Linked DNA regions of Homo sapiens. The protein of the gene in region 1 interacts with the protein of each later gene in a pairwise test. Each region holds a gene or a part of one and is shown in the gene's direction. Other genes may lie near its edges.

Region 1 (3,658 bases):
TGTTTGTTTTTGGTTGTTTCAAGACAACCAAAGAGAGCAAATCTGAGAGTAAATCTGGCCCGTTACTTCATCTTGGTCGTAAAAGGAAGTCAGTTTTTTAAGCAGTTTTAGAGAGTTAGAATTGATGGCTTGTAAGGTTTCTTTCAATCCTGAGATCTTTGGCTTCATATTACATACCTTTAACAGCTTATTTTCCCATCTTCACATTATCCTTTTCTCTCCTCAAAACACTTAACTATCTGCATTTGTGCTTAGAAGGCTTGTTGGGATTAACTCTGGGCTGTGAATGAACCGTATTCATGATACAAACACATTTCATAGAATGATGACAATCAAGATGTAACAACAGAAAAATGTTTTCTATAATATTCTTAATATATTTATATGATAGAACAGCTATAATGTAATCTTCTAGATTATGGCCAAAGAGTTTCTTTCGGGAACTAGGCAAATAAGATTTTAATTGAAATCTTTCATTTTTAATAACCACAGAATTATGCAACTTTTACATTCTGAAGTAATTACAGTATCCTTTCATTTTATTGGAAAATATTCAACTGTAATATTAAGTAGGATATCTCAAAACCTGTATTTCCCTTAAAGGGAAGAGGAAGAAAAATGACCTTAGCTTTTTAACACTGCCACTGATAATTTCCATTCTATTTTATTGAAAAGTAAACCTTCAGTAGTGACCTATTGTCTGAGTTATAGCTCATAGTCTAAAATACATTGTGTATATAAAGAAAACATATGAGGTACCATATTAATAAAAGATAGTGGTAGTTCTGTTACCCAGTTTCACTTCAGTTTTGAGTATAACATGCTTAAGTATGTATATCTTTATTAATTAAAGTATGTATATCTTTATTATACAAGATTATGTCTCCACATTTTCAGTTCTTTTTCCTAATAAATGGGCTAGTAATAGTTAAAACAGATACCGCTAGGTTTATCTTTTAAATAATGAAATTCAAGTGTTTTCTTATGCTAGGGATTATGGTTTTGAGGTATGGTTAAGTCCTGGAAATAATACTAGTTATTTTTTGATTAGATGGTATTTCTTAAAGCCAACTATTTTTTTTCTGTTTTTTTCTACATCACTCAAACAAGATTTATAATCAGTAAGAGAGATGCTGTAATAGTAAAAGACTCCCTTGGCCAGGCGCGGTGGCTAATCCCAGCACTTTGGGAGGCCGAGGCGGGCGGATCACGAGGTCAGGAGATGAGACCACGATGAAACCCCGTCTCTACTAAAAATACAAAAATTAGCCGGGCGTGGTGGCCGGCGCTTGTAGTCCCAGCTACTCGGGAGGCTGAGGCAGGAGAATAGCGCGAACCCAGGAGGCGGAGCTTGCAGCGAGCCAAGATCGCGCCACTGCACTGCAGCCTGGGCGACAGAGCAAGACTCTGTCTCAAAAAAAAAAGGACTCCCTTGTAGTGAGTTAAATTTTTCAAGATACTTGGTTATCATTTCGTTTACTAAAATAATAAATGACTAAGGAGAGTTAAGACCATTATTTGTGGTATATTGGCCATAAGAAGTTTTCTTCTGTCCTATGTTTTATACAGACATGTTACCAAAAAAAAAAAAATACGCATTGCAGCATTTGCCACAGAAAGCATCCAGGTTTTTCTACTCATTAAAAAAGTGGCTAGGACTGATAACCTGTAGTGATCTTCCAGGTTTTGCTGCAGTGAGAAAACCATTACTGTTAAAAACCTGCTGTCATATCACATTATCCTTCTCAACAAGCACTTTGTTACAATGGAAGTTCTCTTTGCAGTGGAGTCCTCCTTGCCTCCCTTGTCCTAAGTTAAACCTCTATTTTTAGAGTTAAGAATCATTAAAGACATGGAAGAGTTCGCACAACTGGTTGTGGCATGAACGATAGCATGTAATTTTATAAATGTATAAATGGTTTTTGAATTTTTTTCTCTGCTGATAAGGATGATTAAATTCTTCATGTTTTTTCTTTATATAGACTCCAAACCTTTCTAGACTTGTAGGAAATCTGTTGATGCATAATACAGTGGAAAGAATTATGTGATCTAATGTGCAAATAATCTACTGGAGGACATTGGATATAAAAATGTTTTCTTAATGTGTTTTTCAGATGTCTGTGAGCTTTTGAAGTTGTTCTTTCCCCCACTTAATTTTAAGTCTCCTAGATTGGCTGAGCTGAGCAGTAGAAATTAATGAGGTAGAATGCTTGAGTTGAATAAACTGGGAGAAAATCTCTCTCTCCAGTAAACCGTTATTACTGTAACAGAAACAGTTTCTATAAACTCAGTTCCCAAATGGTCATAAGCTTTAGTTGGGAAATGGTGCGGTAATTGAAATACTATGTTAATAAAGAGTTATAGGCAATATAATTTTCAAATAATTAGAGAACAGTAGAATATATGTAATACAGACTATGCTGACGTAATTTTAATGTTTCTTTGATTCAAGTTATAGCTGTGTAGACATAATAGTTAAAAGTATTATACATAGTTTATTGTTTTTTAAGGTATTTTAAAAAATTCTCCCAGGCCAGGCTCAGTGGCTCACACCTGTAATCCCAGCACTTTGGGAGGCCAAGACAGGCAGATCACCTGAGGTCAGGACCAGCCTGGCTAACATGGTGAAACCTTGTCTCTACTAAAAATACAAAAATTAGCTGGGAGTGGTAGGCAGATGCCTGTAGTCCCAGCTACTCAGGAAGCTGAGATGGAAGGATCACTTGAACCCAGGAGGCAGAGGTTGCAGTAAGCCAAGATTGTGCCACTGCATTCCAGCCTGGGTGACGGAGTGAGACTCCATCTCAAAAAAAAAAAAAAATTCTCCTAGTATTTACTGAATATTCTAAATTATATTAGTACCTCTCATAGTTCTCTGCATGTAGTAGTCACGTAGCTAAGTTTACTGAAGCCACAAACAAATTTGATATCCTTAAGGGAACAAAATTCTGATTGATTCTGATCTGTGTCTTTCAGAAAAATCACTACCAATATAATGGATTTTATATATCAGATTGCTTTATTCTGGATATCATGGTAACAATACAGAAAGTATACATAATTTCCCATTTCTGCAAGTAGTCATGACTGCTGAAGAAAGAAAAACTTAAAGCTACGGCAGAATTATTTTATGGAAATTCTGATTTTGTTTTTAATTTTTGATAACTTTTTACTAAAGGTATGAACACACAAAGAGCTTATTTTGTTAGGCAAATACACATTAATAAGAATGCCTAGAAGAGGACTGATTCTTCACACCCGGACCCACTGGTTGCTGTTGGGCCTTGCTTTGCTCTGCAGTTTGGTATTATTTATGTACCTCCTGGAATGTGCCCCCCAGACTGATGGAAATGCATCTCTTCCTGGTGTTGTTGGGGAAAATTATGGTAAAGAGTATTATCAAGCCCTCCTACAGGAACAAGAAGAACATTATCAGACCAGGGCAACCAGTCTGAAACGCCAAATTGCCCAACTAAAACAAGAATTACAAGAAATGAGTGAGAAGATGCGGTCACTGCAAGAAAGAAGGAATGTAGGGGCTAATGGCATAGGCTATCAGAGCAACAAAGAGCAAGCACCTAGTGATCTTTTAGAGTTTCTTCATTCCCAAATTGACAAAGCTGAAGTTAGCATAGGGGCCAAACTACCCAGTGAGTAT
Region 2 (3,658 bases), on another chromosome or scaffold:
TAATACCATAATATTTGTTGTCTATTTCATTGTTATTTCCATGAACTATCTTTCCATGATTTCAAGGAGCTTCACATTTGCGTTTTAACATAGCCAACACATCATGGCATGAAATTTGTAAAATGGGAAAGAAAAGTGTAAATACAAAATTTAAACATATGAGAGATTCATAATGAATTTTGAAAAATTATTTTGCTGGGCATGGTAGCTCATGCCTGTAATCCCAGCACTTTGGGAGGTTGAAGGGGGCAGATTGCTTGAGCCCAGGAGTTTGAGACCAACCTGGGCAACATAGTGAGACCCTAGCTCTACAAAAAATACAAAAACTAGCTGGGTGTGGTAGTGTGTTCCTGTAGTCCCAGCTGCTTGAGGGGGCTGAGGTGGGAAGACCACTGGACCCTGGGAGGCTGAGGCTGCAGTGAGTTCTAATTCAGCCACTGCACTCCAGCCTGGCCAACAGAATGAGACACTGCCTCTAAAAAACAAAAAAAGAAAAGATAAATCATATCAGGAGAGATGTCATACAGTCTTAAGGAAGATGAACAGTGGATTTAATAATTTATTTTGGTTTCAAAAAACATTAGGCTGTCAATCTTATGGATGTTTACTGCTGTATATTGTAGTATAAGGAATTAAAACTTCCTGGCATTTTTAATCAATAGAGATGTCTTTTTATGGTAGTTAAATTTTTTCTTCTAATATTATAAGTGGCACTGTCACCCTCTTCTTTATAATATCTTACATAGTGTACAGATGTTATCTGTAAAATATTTTAAGTTCTATATACTGATGTTAATCATTGCAGTGCTATGTTTTGGAAGTTAAATAAGCAGATGCTTCATATTATTAACTTAAATGGCTTAATTTTGATTTGCCATTAATTATACTTAATGGTTTATGAATAGATTTGTGTGGAGACCTTTTAATCTTTTAGTCAAATAAATTTCTGTTTTAGGAACCATGTTCAGCAATCTCGGGGTATGGAAAGAAAATTGACAAGTCCATTAAAAAAGGCCTTTATTGGCTGCTACATGTTATTGCAAGAGACTTTGATGCCTTAAATGAACGCATCCAAAAAGAGACAACAGAGCAGCGTGCTCTTGAGGAACAAGAGAAACAAGAAAGAGCTGAACGAGTGCGAAAATTACGAGAAGAAAGGTAAGTAGATTAATTTTGTACCACAGTGCATTTGAAGGATCAAAAACATAACAATTTTATGAATCAGTTGTTAGTTTTATCTGTTCAGTTTCTTCTTTCTGTGTGAAGGAAGACACTAGGTAAATTTTGTATTTCTGTGGATCTTTTTCTGTACAAGTTTGGGTGGTAGATTCCTAATTTTTCTGGTGGTTGTATAATAGTTAAATTTACTCCTTACGTAGCCATTGTCTTCCAGAGTTTTAAATTTTTGTCTCTGATTGCTTGTGGGTACCTTAGTGCAGTGGTTCTCAATGCACAGGGTAGTTTTTAACATTTGGCAGTGTCTGGAGACATTTTTAGTTTTCACCACTAGGGGAAGGAGTGGAGTACTACTTGGAATCTATTGGGTAGAGGCCAGGGATGCAGCTAAACATCCTATGACACACAGGACAGTCTCCCACAACAAAGAATTATCAGGCTTAATATGTCAATAACGTTGAGACTGAGGAACCTTTTTAGTTTCAGCAAGGATAGAAGGTGAGCTGCTAGAGAATCATTCAACTCAAGCAAAATCTGATCCATAGTTGCCTTCCATCTGGCCTTTTATGTAGTTTAACATAGTTGTAGCCCAGTGAGCAAGAACTCACTACCCTTGGTGACCCATTATGAGGTACTTCCTTATACCGTGAAGGAAATCCTCTGATAACTGGTATTTTTCATTTAATTCATCAATAGGACTTAAAGAAATATTTATAGAAATGACTCTCTATCCCCAAGTGCTCAATAATATGAGCGTGCCTTTCATCTAGGGATCTCTTTATATAAAAGACAGATTAGAGTGAATGATTTTGGCAGCTGTTGATACAAGGTTTTAGTTCCTGTGAGAATATTTGTTTTTTTCTTAGTATGTATTTTTATCATATAAAGCTCAGTACAACCAATCATGCATGTTAAGTATACCTTTTATATATAATATTTATAAAAATTAAATATATGGCCATAATTATGTGAAAACTCCTTTTCCTCCACTAAGAAAATAAAAACAGAAGCAACAAAAAAATTGAGTTGGATAAAAGAAATCTAATGTTAGTAACTTTTTAAATGTTTTTGCCTTTTCCATAATGATATTCTAGATCATGTTATGGCAGGCTTTTCCAATACTCCTTACCCTTTCTTTCTTTCTCTTTATCCATGCCAGTTGTGGTCTGAGACCTCTCCTCTTGAGGAGACCTCTTCTGTTGAGCCAATACTCCATAATTAAAAGCAAATTGACATTCGGAGACGGGTGATTAAAAACAAGCTTTTTACTTCACTAAATCCAATCTAATTGGTTCAGATAGTCATTTCTAGTGTTTTTGAAAAACAGTAAAACATGCCAAGTAAAAATAATATATTAATACTGTATTCCTGAAGTTGCTTACTAATAAATAAAATTAATAACAATGACTATCCTATGAGAAAGTTAATTCACAGAGTGTTCTCACATATATTACTTTATCTGACCCTTGATACAGCTCTATGAAGTGGTTATTTTTATTCACATTTGTGGGAAAGCTAAGGCTCAAAAGATCCAGGTCCAAAGTCACAGAAGTAGTAAATTGCAAATCTCCAAATCTTGGCTTCCTAGGTTCATAATAAAAGGATATGTATTTCCATCTAGAACACAGCTAGTAAATATTATGGTAATGAACATTTACATTGCTATACCATACTTACAGTCCAGTTAAAGATCCACAATACTTGTGTTTCTTTCTTTTTTTTTTTTTTGGTCTCTGGCTGCTCTTTTTTTTTTTTTTTTTTTTTTTTTGAGGTGGAATTTTGCTCTTGTTGCCCAGGCTGGAGTGCAATGGCGCAGTCTCGGCGCACTGCAACCTCCGTCTCCCAGGTTCAAGCGATTCTCCTGCCTCAGCCTCCCGAGTAATGGGGATAACAGGCATGCACCACCACACCCGGCTAATTTTGTATTTTCAGTAGAGACAGGGTTTCACCATGTTGATTAGGCTGGTCTCAAACTCCTGACCTCGTGATCCACCCGCCTCGGCCTCCCAAAATGCTGGGATTACAGGCGTGAGCCACCGCACCCGGCCGGCTGCTCATCTTAATAACATTACTCATCATGTATGGAACAACATTACTATAAATCACAGAGATAGTAAATGTTCAGTGGTAACTAATATGGAAATACTTATTTAATCTGAATGATACATATGGTAACTTATTTTTATAGCCACTGAACACTATTATGGAAGTTATTATCTAGTTCAAATATGATACACAACTTGATAAAATATTTTATATTACTACTCTGTCATATACTTCTATAGAATCAATCTGTAGATATTCTAGTCTTTTATTCTTTTATACTAAACAAGAAACATGTTTATGCAGAAATAAAAACATAGGTTGAGTTGAAGGAATGTTTTCCTAGTTTTGTAAGAGAAGACTTAGCCCTTAAGAAAAGAATTAATAAGAATAATTACTATTTGGCTGGGCGCGGTGGCTCACACCTGTAATCCCAGCA
Region 3 (3,400 bases), on another chromosome or scaffold:
CTGTGGAAATGATATAAGCCTAATAAGTGTTTTTAAATACCTTCTCCTGTCTATTACAAAAGTACACATTATATAGAAAATGTGGAAATTATAGGGCAGAAGACAAAATAAAATAAAAATCACTCCAGATTATGTAGAAATAACCAACTACTGTTAACTTTTAGGTTTATAAACTTCCAATTATTTTGATTTTCTTTACATATATTAAATTTATTTTTTTCCTTTTCTATAACCTAAGTGATACATATTAAATTTAAAATATTTAAGCCTCTTCCAAAAGCATTTTTTATAAAGTGGTATCTTTTTTTTTTTTTTTTTGAGACAGAGTCTCGCTGTCACCCAAGCTGGAGTGCAGTGGTGCAATCTCTGCTCACTGCAAGCTCCGCCTCTCAGGTTCACACCATTCTCCTGCCTCAGCCTCCTGAGTAGCTGGGACTACAGGCACCCACCACCACACCCGGCTAATTTTTTTTGTATTTTAAGTAGAGACAGGGTTTCACCGTGTTAGCCAGGATGGTCTCGATCTCCTGACCTTGTGATCTGCCCGCCTCAGCCTCCCAAAGTGCTGGGATTACAGGCATGAGCCACCGTGTCTGGCCAGAAAGTGGTATCTTAAAAGTGAACTCCGCTTTCAAGATTTTTGGAGAATGATTGCTGTAACCCAGAAAACAAAAAGGCACCTCATTAAAGATGCTTGCCTACCATTGCAGAGATCAGATATTAAGAATGAGCTGAGGATCTTAGATTGCAGTTATAAATACCGAACTATGGCACTTTTCATCCCAAAGAAACTGGACTTCCACATAAACTCATTTTTTTCCTAATTGTAGACAATTTGAAAAAATTAGAAGAGAAAAAGTCCATTTCACCACTTAAAGCCAACCATAGCTATCACTTTTATATGCTCCTTAAAGTCTTTTTTTTCATATTTTAAGCTAATTTGTCGCTCAAGCTGTATATACAAATTTGCATCTTGATGTTTAACCCAGTATGGTAGCACACTTATTTCCTCATGTTATGACATACTTTTATTATAATAATTTTACAACTGTTTATTATATAATTGTACCATAATTTACTTAAACCATTGTCTACTTTTGAATTTTCTATTATCCTAATTATACTGTGATGAATGTTTCTGTGGACAAAGCTTTCTTTCTTCTGAGGGTTATTTCTTGCTGATAGATTCCTGGAGAGAGAATTATATGTCAAAGGTGTTAATGAAAATTTCTAGTTTTTGTTATTTTCTGAAAGAGTTGGTTTATATCTGTGTCTTTTGGCAAAATCACTTTCAGCATTAGAAAGTGGGACACTAATCTGAAAAATGGGACAAATATATTTATGGAGTATTGGGGGGCAGAATATTTGAAATTGAAACTATTCAAAGAAATCCATTTCTTTTGGTTGCTGTATTCACAAATAATATATCATGATTACATTTTGGAGGAAACTTTCGGAGGGATTAAGGAGATATTAAGTTCATGAATTCGGTAAAGATCTTTGTGTATGGTAGATGTCTTCTGTCTTAAAGAACTATCAGTAATGTACCCTGATCAAGTGTCCTTTAAGAACTAAACTAATCTGGGCCAGGCGCGGTGGCTTACATCCGTAATCCCAGCACTTTGGGAGGCTGAGGCAGGTGGATCACCTGAGATCAGGAGTTCGAGACCAGCCTTTTCAACATGGAGAAACCCTGTCTCTACTAAAAATACAAAATTAGCCGGGCGTGGTGGTGCATGTCGGTAATCCCAGCTACTCGGGAGGCTGAGACGGGAGAATCACTTGAACCTGGGAGGCGGAGATTTCAGTGAGCTGAGATCGCACCATTGTACTCTAGCCTGGGCATACAGAGCAAGACTCCGTCTCAAAAAAAAAACAAAAACAAAAACAAAAAAACAAAACAAAAAAACAACAACTAAACTAATCTGAGTACTATCAAATTTTTTAAAAACACTACTTCTCTGTAATGTAAATGGGTACAGGAAAGCTTTATAAGCTATAGCTCCTTGTCAGTGTTATTTTCTCTCAAGTCTGTTCCATTTTGTTTGGTCCAAAACATTTTGGTAGATGCTGCTATCAAAGCATAGTCTTAATGGGAAGTGGAAGTAGGATCACTATAACAGGAACTCAATACATACTGAATTAGCTTATTATTTAACTCAGTAAGTACTTGTTTAAACTGAATGTTTAAAATTAGACATTGTCAGGCCAGGCCCAGTGGCTCATACCTGTAATCCCAGCACTTTCGGAGGCCAAGGTGGGCAGATCACTTGAGGTCAGGAGTTCAAGACCAGCCTGGCCAACATGGTGAAACCCTGTCTCTACTAAAAATACAAAAATTAGCCGGGCGTGGTAGCGGGCACCTGTAATCCCAGCTACTTGGGAGGCCGAGGCAGGAGAATCACTTGAACCCGGAAGATAGAGGTTGCAGTGAGCTGAGATCATGCCACTGCACTCCAGCCTGGGCAACAGAGTGAGACTCTCCAAAAATAAATAAATAAAATAATAAAAAAATAAAACCAGACATTATAAATGGGCCTCAGCAATAGTGTTTTATAACAAGTACATATTATCAAAAAACAACTGAGATCACTCTTACTAACCTATGTTTCTGAAACAGATGTCTGAGGATAAAAAGGATGAAGGCAGTGGGACAAGTACTTCAGTAAGGAAAGGTGAGAACCAGTGCATATTTGGTGTTGGACTATGAGGGGAAGAATATGTGTGGTGTTGCATGCCTGTAGTCCCAGCTACTCAGAAGGCTGAGGCAGGAGGATTGCTTGAGCTAAGCAGTTCAAGACCACAGCTTGAGAACATAGTGAGACCCAGTACCAAAAAAAAAAAAAAAAAAAAAAGAAAAGAAAAGAAAAAGAAAAAAAGAAAAATGAAATAAAGACAAAGAAAGAAATTTGTGCTGAGTGTGGAAAGCAAAAAACAGAGATGAACAGCCAACAGCATTGTAAGACTTTGCACACTAGAGGAGGCCCATTGGGGTTGGGTGAGTTTTTGCTTTGGACTCCCTAGTGCAGAGGGACAGTTTAGCTGCTTAGCAAGAAGCTATGAATTACTGGGAGGTGGAACTCAAGTTCTTTTTTCACTCCTTAGCTCTCTCCCTTCACATTGCTTGCCCTTCCCACATCCTCATGGTTAGTGCTATTACAGGATTATGAACTGTCTATGACATCTTTTTCAATAACCTATAAGCAGTGGTGCACTGGTAAATGTTTAACAACTGGTTCTCCAAAACTCCTGTGTGTACATATGCTTACTAAAAATTTTACTGATATAAAGGTTGCACGTCATCTCAGCACCTCCAGAGGCTGAAGCAGGAGAACTGCTTGAGGCCAGGAGTTCAAGATCAGCCTGGAGAACATAGCAAAACCCTGTCTTTTTAAAAAAG

What was found.
Region 2: the proteins of CSGALNACT2 (region 1) and ARL13B interact in binary tests that used the Homo sapiens proteins (3 or more experiments, as listed by UniProt).
Region 3: the proteins of CSGALNACT2 (region 1) and SSMEM1 interact in binary tests that used the Homo sapiens proteins (3 or more experiments, as listed by UniProt).

What each region holds. Positions count from the first base shown.
Region 1 is NC_000010.11:43,151,921-43,155,578, forward strand, and holds part of CSGALNACT2 (chondroitin sulfate N-acetylgalactosaminyltransferase 2), read left to right. Parts: intron 1-2,976; 5' UTR 2,977-3,229; coding exon 3,230-3,658. UniProt on the Homo sapiens protein: Transfers 1,4-N-acetylgalactosamine (GalNAc) from UDP-GalNAc to the non-reducing end of glucuronic acid (GlcUA). Required for addition of the first GalNAc to the core tetrasaccharide linker and for elongation of chondroitin chains.
Region 2 is NC_000003.12:94,035,597-94,039,254, forward strand, and holds part of ARL13B (ADP-ribosylation factor-like protein 13B), read left to right. Parts: intron 1-955; coding exon 956-1,158; intron 1,159-3,658. UniProt on the Homo sapiens protein: Cilium-specific protein required to control the microtubule-based, ciliary axoneme structure. May act by maintaining the association between IFT subcomplexes A and B. Binds GTP but is not able to hydrolyze fit; the GTPase activity remains unclear.
Region 3 is NC_000007.14:130,210,860-130,214,259, forward strand, and holds part of SSMEM1 (serine-rich single-pass membrane protein 1), read left to right. Parts: intron 1-2,620; coding exon 2,621-2,675; intron 2,676-3,400.